Linked DNA regions of Homo sapiens: region 2 is linked to region 1. Evidence: fine-mapped expression QTL. A gene starts in region 1. The other region holds a variant in brackets. All regions are shown on one strand. Distances are between the middles of the regions. Region 1 holds the start of EIF2AK2 (eukaryotic translation initiation factor 2 alpha kinase 2). Region 2 overlaps EIF2AK2 (eukaryotic translation initiation factor 2 alpha kinase 2).

Evidence for each region.
Region 2: its variant is fine-mapped to the expression of EIF2AK2 in whole blood (TOPMed, PIP 0.94).

The regions. Positions count from the first base shown.
Region 1 is chr2:37,152,676-37,161,047 of GRCh38, forward strand. EIF2AK2 (eukaryotic translation initiation factor 2 alpha kinase 2) reads right to left here and starts at 4,305. Exons shown (of 17, transcript NM_001135651.3): 1 at 4,233-4,305. RefSeq lists silencers at 4,095-4,214, 4,415-4,604 and an enhancer at 4,235-4,364.
Region 2 is chr2:37,116,008-37,124,379 of GRCh38, forward strand. EIF2AK2 (eukaryotic translation initiation factor 2 alpha kinase 2) reads right to left here. Exons shown (of 17, transcript NM_001135651.3): 12 at 6,499-6,657; 13 at 3,952-4,132. Among named protein-coding and RNA genes, the nearest start is that of GPATCH11, 36 kb to the left of the region's middle. The variant T/C (reference allele first, on the strand shown) is at 4,379.

The sequences.
Region 1 (8,372 bases):
GTGATTTCTTTCACGTCCATGATTTCAGTGATCATCTATACGCCATTACCTCTAAAGTTTACATATTCCTTATGAACCGCTCTGAGTTTCAGATCTCTCTATCCAAATTCTCCACTTGAACATCTTGAACGAACTTTAAACTCAAAATATCCTGTACTGCATGTATGATCTTCTCCCAAGCTGGTTTGAAGTTTCCTTTCACAGGAAATGAGTCCACCATCTATCCAAGTCTGAAAGCCATCAATCTGGGAGGCATCCTTGACATTTCCTCTCCCTGCCTTCTAATCTATAACTAAGTCCTGTCACCAAAATCTTTCTACTTCTCAAAGATGTCTACACTTACCATCCTAGTTCAAGCCAACACCACCTCATTCCTGGATTGCTGTGAGAATCTCAGAACCAGTTCCGACAGCTACTTCAATTCCTTCTCTACCCTGCAACCATTGTGATTTTTTTTTTTATGTTTTAAAATTGTGATAAAATACACATAACATGAAATGTACTATTTTTCAATGTATTAATTCCCTGCCTTTAAGTACATTCACAATGTTGTGTAGCCGCCACCACATCCACATCCACAACTCTTAATCTTTCCAAACAGAAAGTGTGTACCCATTAAACAGTAACTCCCCATTTCCCAGTCCTTTCAGTCTCTGCTAATCTTTTTTTTTTTTTTTTTTTTTGAGACAGGGTCTCGCTCTGTTGCCCAGGCTGGAGTGCAGTGGTGTGATCACAGCTTACTGCAGCCTTGAACTCTGGGCTCAAGCGATCCTCCCACCTCAGCCTCCCGAGTAGCTGGGACCATAGGCGTGGGCATGCCTGGTTAATTTTTTATATTTTCTAATCTCTCTTCTGTCTCTGTAAATTTGCCTGTTCTAGGTACCTCATATAAGTGGAATCAAACAGTATTTGTCCTTTTGTGTCTGGTTATTTCACTTAGCAAAATGTCTTCAAGGTTCATCTATGTTGTAGCATATGTCAGAATTCCTTTCCTTTTTAAGGCTGAATAATATTCCGTTGTGTATATATACCATATTTTGTTCATGCATTCATTTATGAATGGACACTGGTTATTTCAACCTTTTGGCCATCTTGAATCATGCTGCTGTGAACACTGGTATACATATATCTGTTTAAGTCCCTACTTCTGAATATTTGTGGTATATAAGTGGAATTGAATCACATGATAATTCTGTTTAACTTTGTGATGAATCACCAAATTGTTTTCCACAGTGGTTACACCCATGTTACATTTCCACCAGCAATGCACGAGGGTTCTAATTTCTCCACATCCTCACCATCACTTGTTATTATCTGTTTTCTTTTTTAATACAGCCACATCATGATCTTTTTAAAACATCAATTCAGTGGCCAGGCGCGGTGGCTCACACCTGTAATCCCAGCACTTTGGGAGGCCAAGGCGGGCAGATCACCTGAGGTCGGGACTTCAAGACCAGCCTGACCAACATGGAGAAACCCCATCTCTACTAAAAATACAAAATTAGCCGGGGTGGTGGCACATGCCTGTAATCCCAGCTACTCGGGATGCTGAGGAAGGAGAATCGCTTGAACCCAGGAGGTGGAGGTTGCGGTGAGCTGAGATCGTGCCATTGCACTCCAGCCTGGGCAACAAGAGCGAAACTCCGTCTCAAAAAAAAAAACAAAAACAAAACAAACAAACAAAAAAACATCAATTCAATCATGCAGTCTCCACAAGCCACTGAAATTGTTTTTGTCGAGGTTACCAATGGCTTCCCTATCACTAAATCCAGTAGTCAGTTCTTAGTCCTTCTCTACTTGACTTACAACCAGCATTTGATGGGGTTGCGCATCCTCTTCGCCCTCCTCTCCCTGTCTTAGCTTGGACTTTTAAGACACCCACTCTCCTAGTTTTCTTCTTTTGAGACAGAGTTTCGCTCTTGTTGCCCAGGCTGGAGTGTGATGGTGGCATCTCGGCTCGCTGCAACCTCTGCCTCCCGGGTTCAAGCGATTCTCCTGCCTCAGCATTCCGAGTAGCTGGGATTACAGGCGCCCACCACCACGCCCGGCTAATTTTTTATATTTTTAGTAGAGACGGGGTTTCCCCATGTTGGCCAGGCTGGTCTCAAACTCCTGACCTCAGGTGATCCACCCACCTTGGCCTCCCAAAGTGCTGCGATTACAGGCATGAGCCATGGCACCTGGGCCTGGTTTTCTTCTGTTCTGACAAGCTACTCCTTTTCTGTCTCCTTTCCTGGTTCATCTTCAACTTCTTTTCTTCTATTTTTTTTTTTTTAACCTTTTCTATGGTTCTAACTTCCTCTTTTCTAGATATTCTAGCATCACTGGGCCCGGTCCTTAGACTTGCTCTTTTCTACTTGGACTCACTCCCCTGGTGATCACCTCCAGGTTTGTGGCTTTAAATTCCACGGACACAATGATGGTTCTCAAAAGCACGCTTCCACCATGGACTCTCTCCTGAACTCCCAACTGCCTCTGTCCAACCTGCTCCCTCCTAAAATGCCCTTGACTCTATTCCTTCTGCTGTCTTGGCCTGGTCAATTTCTACTTCCTACAGATTTCAGCTCAAAATCCCAGACACTCCTTCACAGGCTCTTCCACAGTGCTCATCCCCTTTATTAAAATTGCTTATTTAACTATTTTCCAAAATAGAGCATGAATTACTACAGGTAAGGGACCAGGCTCAATAATGAATGAGTGAGTACCAAAATATCTCCAGATACCCCATCCAGGACTTGTCACCTGCTTTTCTCTACATTTATAGTGCAATATCTGCATTCTCTCTGTACCCACCAATATCCACTCATCTATCAGGATCAACACAGCCTTCTTTGATGCTGGAGGGTCAGCTAGTATGGGCTTGCCACTCCACCTTGCCCAACCTTCAACACAGCCCTGACTGCTTTTTAAACTAATTAGTGAGCTCTTTGGGGAGCAGATTCTACATCTTATTCACTCATCTGGAAGAAACCTCCATCATAATCACTAAAAAATAATATTTGTCCATCTTACTAATGCCCAGAAATTATTTTGGCTATGCCTCCACTTCCTTTCCAGCAGACTACATACAGCCTGGCCAACACGGTGAAACCCTGTCTCTACTAAAAATAAAAAAATTAGTTGGCTGTGCTGGCGGGCACCTGTAGTCCCAGCTACCTGGGAGGCTGAGGAAGGAAAATCGCTTGAACCTGAGAGGCAGAGGTTGCAGTGAGCCCAGATCGTGCCACTGCATTCCAGCCTGGCGACAGAGTGAGAATCTGTCTCAAAAAAAAAAAAAAAGAAAAGAAAAGAAAGAAAATGTCACCAGGTGATAACTACTATGTTGACAACCGAAGTAGTGGAAGGGGGAACAGCAAGGGCAGAGCGGGGTTTCTTGTATAGGCAGGTTGTTTGAGGAAGGCTGCTCTGATAAGCTGGCATGGGAAGCAGTGCAGGATAAGGGAGGGATTTCCCCATGCAGTTATCTGGGGAAGAAGCTTTCCAGAAAGAAGAAACAAGCAGTGCAAAGGCCTAGAGGCTGGAGGATGCTTGGCTGTGCACCAGGAACAGCAAGGAAGCCAGCGTGGCCGGAGTAGGGGGTGCGAGGGGCCTTGCCTGTGAGCCTTAATAAATGTTTATAGGATTCTGATGAGACAGGAAAGCTACGGGGAAGGTCGGAGCAGGGGAGAGTCTGGTTCTTACTTAAAGGAACATTCCAGATGCTGAGGTGTGGAGAAGAGGTAGGGGGTGGAGGTTCAGGGGTGAGGATACGGAGTGGGAACAGGAACTGCGGCCAGGCAATTGGGAAACTACTGCAACTCTCCACGGAAGAGATTTTTAGCCAAAGATTGTTCAGCCAGTCTATGAGTATTTCAGGCCTCCGTATTTTCCATGTGTCAAGCCACTAGGCCTATTCGTCTTCCACTAGACCCCGCCCCACAACTGCTGCCTGGGAAATATTTGTTACTTGCACTGATAAAAATTCTTCACGGGAAGGAAATGGCTTTCAGTCCCCACCCCGCTCCACGATCCTTTCCCTGGATTTGGGGAGGGCCCCACACCCGGGCTGCGGACCTGGGCCTGCTCTCCCAGTGCTGACCCAGCCGGGGCCAGGGGCTTCGGATCAGCGTCCGCGTCCTGAGCTGGGGACGCAGGATTGGCGAGTCCCGCCCCGGCTGGGCCTGCAGCCCCTCGTACGTGGCCCCCCGGCCCCCGCTCCCCGCGCTCCCTCGGCTGCCCCCTGCCCTGCTCACCTGCGCCGCCGCCGCCGCCGCCGCCGCCGCCGGCCGGAGACCCGCGGCTTCGGGAGAGCTGGTTCTCAGTTTCGTTTTCCCCTTGGACTCCGCCTTCCCTGCAGCCGCCCGGCCCCCTCTCGCACAAGCCCTCGTCTGCTACGGGATTGGGGTAAATTGGCGCTGGATCCAGAGTGCGCGCGAGAGGCACTGGCGGGCGGGCTTGGCACCGGCGGGCGGGCTTGGCACCGGCAGGCGGGCTTGGCACCCACGTGCTGCCCCTGCACGGCCAGGACCCTGCACCCCCATCCCCCGCCCCCGGGGCTCCTAGGGTTCTCCGCTGGCCTAGTCCGCTGGCCGCACTAGGTTCTCGAATCAAGGGTTCCACTTACTCTCAACACAAATATTTGGGGTGGGGTTGGGAAGATGGATCTTACCAGCTCCATTCTACAATAGAGGAAACTGAGTAAATGAACTCACCCAGGGGTCCTGCCGCTCGTAAGTGGCAAAGCCAGGATTCAGTTCAAGTCGGGGCCTGTAAACACCAAAGCACTCTTTCCCTCTTGCCACACCGCGGCCCCCTCACCTTTACAAGCCTGGGGATCAGAGGCCTGGGGGCGTAATCTCCTTCACTCCGCTCCCACCCATCCATTCATTCATGAGCAGACACTTGCCAGCCGCTGTAAAAGCACCTGTGGGCCAGTCCTGCTGCTAAATAGAGACACCTGCTTCCTACAGTACCCCAGGGAGCTTCCTACCATAGTCCAACACCAGTAGTCCTCGATTTATAGAAATTCTACTCACCTGATGGACTGCGACACACTCCCAGAGTCACACAGAGTTCCAGAGTTCATTGGCACAGTGACTAATGAGTATTGAGGCACAGAGAATTTGGATTAACACAGGTAGTAAGCAGCGGAGTTAGAATTATAACCAGGAGTTTGTACTCTCAGTATCTTAGCTGGGATAAGAGAGGAAGGTGGTCCAAAGACAGACCTCAAATATACATTAAATATTATGCCTAGGCCGGCGCGGTGGCTCATGCCTGTAATCCCAGAAATTTGGGAGGCTGAGACGGGCGGATCACCTGAGGTCAGGAGTTCAGGACCAGCCTGGCCAACATGGCAAAACCCCGTCTCTACTAAAAAACACAAAAATTAGCTGGGCGTGGTGGCAGGCACCTGTAATCCCAGCTACTCCAGAGGCTGAGGCAGGGAGAATTGCTTGAACCTGGGAGGCAGAGATTGTAGTGAGCTGAGATCATGCCACTACACTCCAGCCTGGGTGACAGAGTGGGACTCCAATTCAAAAAAAAAAAAAAAAAATTACACCTAGGCAGGCATCCTCTCCAGCCTCCCTTCTCCATCCCCCAACAACCCCACATTGCAGGGTATCAACAACTAAAATCTACACTTTCCTTGTAGCTCTGGTCCTGGGCATAGCTTAAGTCCCCTATATGTAAAGCACTGGCGGGAGGTTTAGAAGGTAGACATGAGGCAGAGCCATCTTTTTGTGGCATTTCCAGGTGACAAGAAAACTCTGACAGTGCTGTGTGTCCATTTGTCAGCTTTGTGGGTGTGGGATGGCTGTGGCAGCAGCAATGGCAGTAGCAAGGACAAGTTTTTCTGACTTTTTGAGCCCCTGAACTGCCCAAGAGAGCTTAAAGAATGAAAAATGGCAAGCTTAAGCATGATCAGAGGACACACGCTTTTATGACTGTACCAGAAAACCCTCCTATTTCAGGGAGCCTCAGGGGTGATGTAAAAATCTGCCTTCTCTGCTGGGGAAAGATTTGGAAGGAATGATATCAGAGGGTTGGTGATGAGGTCCAGGGGAATGATATGATATGGGTGAACCTCTTGGAATGGGTAAAGTGTGAGCATATTGGACTCCCTGAGGAGCCCAATTCCCTACTGTCTGGGCTCTCAGCTGCAAAGCTTGGTGCTGCAGGCACCAGAATTACAATATAATTGTTTTGAGACAGAGTCTTGCTGTGTTGCCGAGGCTGGAGTGCAGTGGCACAATCTTGGCTCACTACAACCTCTGGCTCCCGGGCTCAAGCAATTTCCCTGCCTCAGCCTGCCAAGTAACTGGGATTACAGGCGTGTGCCACCGCACCTAGCTAATTTTTGTATTTTTAGTAGAGAAGGGGTTTCACCATATTGGCCAGCCTGGTTTGGAACTCCTAACCTCAAGTGATTCCCCCACCTCGGCCTTCCAAAGTACTGAGATTACAGGCGTGATCCACCGCGCCCAGCCTAGAATTACAACAAAAATTTTCATTTGCAGCCTCATCAGGTCTCTTCTGTGAACACTGAGGGCATTGATTGTGAAAGAAAGAAGCCCTGGGAATTTGGGTGGATTTGAATGAATCCAAGTGCCACTGCCCTCCTAAATTCTGCTGTGTCTCCACAGGCTTCCCACCATTGTCTGATAAGGCTGGTACAGCCTACATTAAAAAGCATGAAACAGTCACCCTGCAAGGAGGTGCTGATTCTCCAAATATCCTATCTCTACCTGTGCCTTCACTCCTAGAACTAGAATCAGATGCTAATGCGCCCCAAGAGGATATGGACAAGATCTGATGGAGGGGTGATGCTTTACACAACAAAAGAGCAACAGAAAGCAAGAAATAGACATGGCAATGAGTCTAAAGATGACGTGAAGAAAGCTGAAAGTTGAGGCTGAGCGCGGTGGCTCATGCTTGTAATCCCAGCACTTTGGGAGGCCGAGGTGGGCGGATCATGAGGTCAGGAGATTGAGACCATCCTGGCCAACATGGTGAAACCACGTCTCTACTAAAAATACAAAAATTAGCTGGGCGTGGTGGCATGTGCCTGTAATCCCAGCTACTTGGGAGGCTGAGGCAGGAGAATCGCTTGAACCAGGGAGTCGGGGTTGCAATGAGCCAAGATCGTGCCACTGCACTCCAGCCTGGCAACAGAGCAAGAAAAAAAAAAAAAAAAGAAAGAAAGTTGATGTACTGCCTCTAGCAGTGGGAGCGCTAAGCCAGTTTGCCCAGTTGGTTTACTATAATATCAGCTCAGTGGCAGCTCACACTAAATGTAAATGTAATGCCAAGTAATGCAGATGAAGAAATCAAAAATACTTAGGGAGTCAGGAATATTGGAGTAGATTCATCTTATGCAACCTAGTCACTTACTTCCTAACCATGGACCCCAAGAAGATCCAAAGTCCCCTCCTTCAGTGGCTTATACAGAGCCAGTGGCTGGCAATGCAGCTGATGTTCAGAGAGTTGGAAGGAATGATATCAGAGGGCTGATGATGAGGTCTAGGGAAATGATGTGCTTGAACCACTTCGAATGGGCAGAGTGTGCATATTGGGCTCCCTTTTGAATGTTCACCAAAGGCAACCACTTCTAAAGAGGCTTTTGAGAAGCAGTTGAGCAAGAAGACTTCTGTTAGCCTTTTCCCCAGCTATCCCTGTGCTTGTTTCAACAAATAAAGAGGCTGTGACAGCAGGAATGGAGGATATGTGTGAGTTTATCCACATGGGCTTCTCAGGCCTTACTACGTAACTCTTTGTGAATATCAGTATGGTTATTGACCTATAGTCAATCCCATAAGTCTATCTCTTTTAATACAGTGACTTTTAGATCAAAATGTGTAATGCTAAAGCAACGAATCAGACACAGATAGAAGAATCGTATGTATCAATTATTCTTAATTCTCTTTTTACTAGCAGAGGAAAAATAATAACTGTTATTCCTGCTTTTGGAAATTGTAGAGTGGTCCATATTTATGTTGTACCATATCTCTTGTGGCTCTTTTCCTCAGATGTTTCTGCTTTAGTAATTTGTCTTGCTTACTTATAAACTCTTCTTGTCAATAGTCCCCACATGCACATTATTATAAAATCATCGCTATGGTCTGAATGTTTGTGTCCTCCCTAAAACTCATAAGTTAAAAGCGAATCACCAATGTGATGGTATTAGGAGGTGTGGCCTTTGGGTGGTGGAACTGGTGCTCTTATAAAAGAGGCCCCAGAGATCTGCCTTGTCCCTTTCATCATGCAGAATACAGAAAGAAGGCCGGGCGTGGTGGCTCACGGCTGTAATTCCACCACTTTGGGAGGCCGAGGTGGGTGGATCACTGGACGCCAGGAGTTCGAGACCAGCCTAGCCAACATGGCAAAACCTT
Region 2 (8,372 bases), 37 kb before region 1:
TGCCTCAGCCTCCCGAGGAGCTGGGATTACAGGCATGTGCCACAACGCTTGGCTAATTTTTTTGTATTTTTAGTAGAGACAGATTTTCACCATGTTGGCCAGATTGGTCTCAAACTCCTGACCTCAAGCAATCTGCTCACCTCAGCCTCCCAAAGTGCTGAGGTTACAGGCATGAGCCACCACGCCCAGCCCATAGGAGGTATTGACCAATATTATTTTTGTTTGTTTTTGAGACAGTGTCTCATTTTGTTATCCAGGATGGATTTCAGTGGCATGATCATGGCTCACTGCAGCCTTGACTTCCTCAGCTCAAGCGATCCTCCCACCTCAGCCTCCCAAGTAGCTGGGACCACAGGCCACCACACCCAGCTCTACTGACCAATATTCTAAAGACCACAAAAACAGGAAGGTAGTTGATGAGAAAATTAATATTTTGCTATTTTTGAAAAGGCTGGACTTTTAATACAATCTTAGGCTAAACACACAGACTCTACGGGATAACACACTTATGAGAGGGCCTACCTAGTAAGGACCTAAGAGGGAAGAGACCATAAGCCCAGGGAAGGCTGAAGGAGGAGCTTCCGAGAAGCCAGCTTGAGATGACGGCTCATACAGCAATTAGCAGTTGGATTAGAATTCAATTAACAGTCAGATTGGAGCCTAACACCAGTAATACAGATGGAAAGCTGTAGACAGATGTGGAGTGGATGTGGAGAGAAAACATTCCTATGCTATGTTCAAGTTGCAATGTGTAGGAATATGTCAGGATTGCAAGTGAAACTGCTAGTCCCACATAAGGCTATCACCTGACTCTAAGAAACAGAAAATTGAATTTGTGAAGCCGTGTAAATATCTAAGCTGGATGAGGCTATCTAGTGAAAATATCAGATCACTTTTTGTAGTTCATTCAAAAGAAAAAGTGGGCAGGGCGTGGTGAGTCACACCTGTAATCCCAGCACTTTGGGAGGCTGAAGCGGGCAGACAGCGTGGGCCCATCAGTCCAAGGCCAACCTTGCCAACATGGTGAAACCCTGTCTCTACTAAAAATACAAAAAATTATCTGGGCATCATGGCAGGCGCCTGTAATCCCAGATACTCGAGAGGCTGACGCAGGAGAATCTCGTGAACCCAGGAGTCAGAGGCTGCAGTGAGCCGAGATCACTCCACTGCACTCCAGCCTGGGCAACAGAGGAGACTCTGTCTCAAAAAAAAAAAAAAAAGAAAAAAGAAAAAAAGAAAAGAAAAAGAAGCTGGGTATGGTGGCTCATGCCTGTAATCCCAACACTTTGGGAAGCCAAGGTCGGCAGATCACTTGAGCTCAGGAGTTCGAGACCAACCAGGGCAACATGGCAAAATCCTGTCTCCACAAAATGTCAAAAATTAGCCTGCCTTGGTAGCCTGCACCTGTAGTCCCAGCTATGTGGGGGGCCGAGGTGGGAGGATTGCTTGAGCCTAGGAGGTCCAGGCTGCAGTGAGCTGAGATCATACAACTGCACTCCAGCCTGGGCAACAGAGTGAGACCTTGTAAAACACAAAAGAAATAAAAACAATAATGCCACATTTTGTCTAATCAGTTATAATATGATTAGACAAAATATAGGGCTGTAGATCATATAAAAGGGATGCAAACTTCACCTAGGAGGCACAGGAACAGGACTGATGCTCAGGCTGAGGATGACCAGAGCCTGGGCTTTAGGAGACTGAACATTTTAGAGAGAAGCAGCCTTGCACAAGAAGCCCTCACTCCAGAAACCCCTATGTCCCTTCCCAGCGCCTTTGGTCTAGTTCCTAAGATTCCAACAGAAAGTGGTAAACACTTGGAGACTTTTGTAAGAGGGGCTGTGTTAGGTAAAGACCATTCTCTGGCAAAACCACCTACAGCTGCTATTTTGCAAAACACAACCCCAAAATTGTACACCTTCATTGTATCTTTTCTTAGAGGAGAGAAATCAACAACTGTAGTAGTGAGAGCCTGAAAAGTTATAGAAGATGAAAGAAGTCTCAGTATCAAAGCTTGAGGCCGGGTGCAGTGGAGCACACCTGGAATGCCAGCACTTTGGGAGGCTGAGGCAGGAGGATCACTTTGAGTCTAAAAGTTTGAGACCAGCCTCGGAAACATGGTGAGACCCTGTCTCTACAAAAAAAAAACACACAAAAATGGCCAGGTGTGGTGGTGTACACCTGTGGTCCCAGCTATACGGGAGGCTGAGGTGGGAGGACTGCTTGAGCCCAGGAGGTCAAGGCTGTAATGAGCCGTGATTGTGCCACTGCACTCCAGCCTGGGCAAAAGAGCAAGACCTTGTCTCAAAAAAAAATAAAAATTAAAAATTTAAGAAGAATAATAAAGTCTGACCCTTGAGCAACTGCAGCCAGAGTAAAAATTCTCTGCAAATAGACACAAGAAAAGATCAGTCCATGACACAGGGCACACACGGTGTGGGGCATAGTTGGCAGGTAAGTGGGTAGGCACCAGTCAGAATTTTGCTAATTCATTCTGAGGACTAGGAGCTTAATGCCTACACTTCTGCATTTATTTGCAAATTATTTTATATAGAAATAATTGTGCTTATTTGTTATTTAACTATATGTATGATTTATCCCAAAGTGAAAGCATAACCAACTCTACATTTATCCTTTTGAAATAGTTCTGACAATGTTCCACCTTCAAAGAACAACTTCAGATATTGTAGAAGAGACATATTGGAACCAGACAGACTCAAAACACCAATGCATCAGACATCCAGCCCCTGGGCAGACCACGGAAGCAATACCTTTTAAGGGCTACTCATTCCTCTCTGAGCCCAATAAACAACTGTGTATATGGGAACTTATTTCTCTCAAGGAATTTTTTTGTTTCATTCCTTATTCCTTGCTGTTTTAGAGGGGTGGGATAAGCAGATAGCCACATAAATAAGGTACTTCTGCCTAGAACAGAAAAAGGCAGTTCCAGAGTGATCAGGAAAGGCTCAGTAAAGGAATTACAACCAAAGGGGGCAGGCAGAAGAGTGTCCCATGAGAGAGAAGAACATGAGCAAAGGTCCAGGGACAGGATTCAGGACGGCCAGCTTGTGACAGGCTTAGGCAAGTCACAGGGAATAGGGAATGGAGGAAAGGCTGTGAAGGGCTATTCTGTCTCTCACCTTCTGTCATTTTAATGAGAAGTAAAAAATAGGGAAACTCCTTGTCCGGACCATAAAAGCCAGAGGAAAATGAAAATACTAAGGGATGATACACTTTCCCAGTCCGGGATTACCGCAATTTTCCAATCATGGGGTTGAAATGCTTAACCAAGACAGTATTAGACTCTGGACCCAGTAGCTGTGACAGCCCTCGCGAGTAATGACTGAGAGATTAGGGAACCATATTCCTAAAGCAACAGTCAACAGAGTCCCCTCTGCCTCTCAAATAAAGCTGAGTCACTTAGAGGAGGCAGGAGGAACAGGGGCAGAGCAGCCAGTTGGCTGTGCCAGTCACAGTAATTATTTGCATGGAAATGTTCAGATACCATTTTCTCATAACTATCAATCAACCACTATTCTAAAACTAGAGAAAAAAATATATATCTATCTATCTTATTTTATATATATATATAATTTTTTTTTTTGAGACAAGTCTCACTCTTCACCTAGGCTGGAGTGCAGTGGCACAATCTTGGCTCACTGCAACCTCCACCTCCCAGGTTCAAGCGAATCTCCTGCCTCAGCCTCCCGAGTAGCTGGGATTACAGGCGCACGCCACCATGCCCAGCTAATTTTTGTATTTTTAGTAGAGACACGGTTTCACCATGTTGGCCAGACTGGTTTCGAACTCATGACCTCAGATGATCTGCCTGCCTCAGCCTCCCAAAGTGTTGAGATTATAGGCGTGAGCCACTGTGCCCAGCTGAGAAGATATATTTTAAAATTACTATATTATATATATATCAATTAATAAAGTACATTTTCCACTTACCTTAAGATCTCTATGAATTAATTTTTTTGAATGTATATAATCCACCCCTTTTGTTATTTGTTCAAAGAGTTCCAAAGCCAAAACTTTGTCTAGTTTCTCGCCTCTTCTTTTTTCAATCCATTGTTCCAAGGTCCCTTTATCACAGAATTCCATTTGGATGAAAAGGCACTTAGTCTTTGACCTGGGTATAAAATTCACAGTATGTTAAAAGTAACAATAAATATAAATTTATAAAAAATTTTTTATAACTTTTTAAAGTTTTTCATAACTTTTTAAAAGCTTATACCTTATCTTCTTAAGAACCCCAAAAACACTTTGGGAGGCCGAGGCGGGCGGATCACGAGGTCAGGAGATCGAGACCACGGTGAAACCCCGTCTCTACTAAAAATACAAAAAATTAGCCAGGCGTGGTGGCGGGCGCCTGTAG[T/C]CCCAGCTACTCCGGGGAGGCTGAGGCAAGAGAATGGCGTGAACCCGGTAGGCGGAGCTTGCAGTGAGCCGAGATCACGCCACTGCACTCCAGCCTGGGTGACAGAGCGAGATTCCGTCTCACAAAAAAAAAAAAAAAAAGAAAAAAAAAGAACCCCAAAACATGTCACAAAATAGAAATCTAAATATAATAAACAAATTTGAATCAAAATATAATAGGCCATTTTTTATTTCAATCATAAGTTCCCGGATGTCCAGAGCTTTATTTGTTTAGCTAATTTATAAAATATGAGCTGGGCTGGGCACGGTGGCTCACGCCTATAATCCTAGCACCTTGGGAGGCCGAGACTGGCGGATTGCTTGAGCTCAGGAGTTTGAGACCAGCCTGGGCAGCATGGCGAAACCCCATCTCTACTAAAAACACAAAAATTAGCTGGGTGTGGTGGCGCGGCACCTGTAGTCTCAGCTACTCGGGAGGATGAGGCACGAGAATCATTTGAACCCAGAAGGCAGAGATTGCAGTAAGCTGAGATCACGCCATTGTGCTCCCGCATGAGCGATAGAGTAAGACTCTGTCTCAAAAAAAAAAAAAGAAGAGGCCGGGCGCGGTGGCTCACGCATGTAATCCCAGCACTTTGGGAGGCCGAGGCGGGTGGATCACGAGGTCAGGAGATCAAGACCATCCTGGCTAACACGGTGAAATCCCGTCTCTACTAAAAATACAAAAAATTAGCCGGGCGTGGTGGCGGGCGCCTGTAGTCCCAGCTACTCAGGAGACTGAGGCAGGAGAATACTGTGAATCCGGGAGGCAGAGCTTGCAGTGAGCCAAGATTGCACCACTGCACTCCAGCCTGTGCGACAGTGCGAGACACCGTCTCAAAAAAAAAAAAAAAAAAAAAAACGAGAAGAAAAAAAAAATGAGCCACCCATTCTTCATTGCTGAAGATCTGCAATCACCATTGCTAACAGATAGAAATAGGAACATGAATACAATGCAGGAAACTAAATTTCATTATTATATAAAGTAACTTTGAAACCTTTTAATTCACCATTGATCTACTAAGCATGAAAGGCACCTAGAGATGAGAAAATCAGTTAGACACTATATCCTTGCCGTCACGGGGATAATAGTCTAATAGGAGAGAGTAAAGGGAAAGCAAACCTAAAACAATAGGGAAGGTACTCTAAGAGAAGTGCCAACAAATTACTAAGATACATAAATTGGAGGCTTGATTTTTTTTTTTTTTTTTTTTGCTAACCACGTTTTATTTTTTTTCTGAATTAAGTTAGCCTCAATATTCATTTATATTCTTTGTATATATGTCAGCTTGAAAACAGGAAGAGGTAGCCAAGAATTTGCTGAAAGCTGAAGTCCTGTATGCTGACGGTCAATAACTCCTGAACTGATGATAATGTTCTCACTTACACGACATGGAGATGGAGGTGGGGCAGGAGAAAATGAATGAATGGGACCCCATTGGCCTCAGGATTTTAGTGAGAGGACTGTCCCCATAATAGGTTGGGTGACTTTCAAAGACAGATGCCAGCTCTTTAGGATCTCCAGTTGTTTGGCAATGGCTTAACTGACATAAAACATGAGGGTGCCCCCATCTCAGCTTGTGGTCTTAAAAATATTTTCACTCCCCACCACCCCAGCATAAGTGGTATAGTTACATTCCAAAGAGACCCTCTGACGGCACCACACCAATCACAGCCTAAGAGAGGGACAGAAAAGTGTTGGTAGCTGAGGAGGGAGCCCCCAGATGCAGCATCTATATGTTAAAACTCTCTTCACAAGACTACACTTAAACAGCCTGCGCTGAAGCCGGCACGTGAACAAGGCTCTCCATGAAACAATGGAGTCAGGAAAGCTGAACCTGAGATTTTGCAGACAGCTGAGGATGTAACAGAGGGTTGTGAGAGCAAGTCTGCAGCAAGAGGAGGAGCAAGGAAGAGATTTTCACTTTCTCCTTACCTTCGGAATGGAGAGATAACAGTGTCTCTCAGAGGGAATTGTGATAATTAATCGTGATGATTAATAGCCTTATCCAGTGGCCCATACATAGTAAATAACAATTTCCTTCCATCCTATTATGGCTATGAGAATTTATTTTTAGTTACCTTGAACTATTTTTGCTGTTCTCAGGATCATAATCACTGCTCTCAAGAGAATCATCACTGGTCTCAGGATCATAATCAAATCCATCCCAACAGCCATTGTAGTGAACAATATTTACATGATCAAGTTTTGCCAATGCTTTTACTTCACGCTCCGCCTTCCTAGTTAAAAGGAACAGGGAACATGGCAGTGTCAGTGTACATCCCTCATAACAACCACAAAACACCTCATGTAATAGACAACTGTCTACATTCCCTTATTAAACCATTGCTGTGGTTCTCACATAGTTTTAGAATGGAAGCCAGGACATTCAAAAGGAAAAAGTGAACATACTGAAAAAAAACATAGCAGTTCTCACTCTCAAGATAAAATAAAAGGCAGTGGCCGGGCGCGGTGGCTCAGGCCTGTAATCCCAGCACTTTGGGAGGCGAAGGTGGGCGGATCACGAGGTCAGGAGTTCAAGACCAGCCTGACCAACATGGTGAAACCCCATCTCTACTAAAAATACAAAAAATTTAGCTGGGCACAGTGGCGCATGTCTGTAATCCCAGCTACTTGGGAGGCTGAGGCAGGAGAATCGCTTGAATCCAGGAGGCGGAGGTTGCAGTGAGCCAAGATTGCACCACTGCACTCCAGCCTGGGCAAAAGAGCAAGACTCTGTCTCAAAAAATAAATAAATAAAAGGCAGCGACTTAATGCCAAGCATCAGACAATTTAAAAATCATCTGTAGTACTCTTGAAATGCCAGTGATGTCATTTTAATTAATTTATTTATTTTATTGAGACAGAGTCTTGCTCTGTCACCCAGGTTGGAGTGCAGTGGCACAATCTTGGCTCATTGCAGCCTCAACCTTCTAGCCTCAAACAATTCTCCCACCTCAGTCTCCTGAGTAGCTGGGACCACAGGAGCACACCACCACACCCATCTAATTTTTTCTATTTTCTGTAGAGATGGGGTTTTGCCACGCTGCCCATGCTGGTCTCAAACTCCTGGGATCTAGCAATCCACCTGCCTCAGCCTCCCAAAGTGCTGGGATTGCAAGCATGAGCCAATGGACCCAGCCAGTGCAATTTTTCATAGCTAAATCATACATTATGTTTTGCTTAGATTTGTGTTAAAATCTTTGTATTTCACAAGCAAACCACATTTAGGCAGCAAGGCTAGGTAACCCAGGCAGTGTGAAGTACCTAATTCAGGATTTTCAATGTGTGGCAAATATACACAAAGAGGATAACTTATGCAGAGAAGGTGAAATGGTGGAAGGCTTTACAGGGATGTGTTGCCAAGACCTAAGAAAATTCCATGCTAAGTGCAGTAAATAAATTGGAGATTTCAAAGATGAGGAAGAATAATCATTTTACAATTTTATTTTTTAATGCAAGAAGTTTTAAAGTATATGACACAAATTTGCAAAAATAAAAAAAATTACTGATACTTTGACAATCCTAAAATAATGTTATTTTAGATTCTTCCTTTTTTTTTTGAGACAGGGTCTCACTCTGTCACCCAGGCTGGAGTGCAGTGGCAATGTTGGCTCACTGCAACCTCCACCCCTAGGGCTCAAGCGATCCTCCTACCTCAGCCTCCCTAGTAGCTAGGACCACAGGCACACACCACCACACTTGGCTAGTTTTTATATTTTTTGTAGAGACAGGGTTTCTCCATGTTGCCCAGGTTGGTCTCGCACTCCTGACCTCAAGTGATCCACCAGCCTTGGCCTCTCAAAGTGGTAGGATTACAGGCCTGAGCCACTGCACCCAGCCAGTCATTTTTTTTGAGAAGAGTCTTGCTTTGTCGCCCAGGCTGGAGTGCAATGGCGCGATCTTGGCTCACTGCAACCTCCGCCTCCTGGGTTCAAGCGATTCTCCTGCCTCA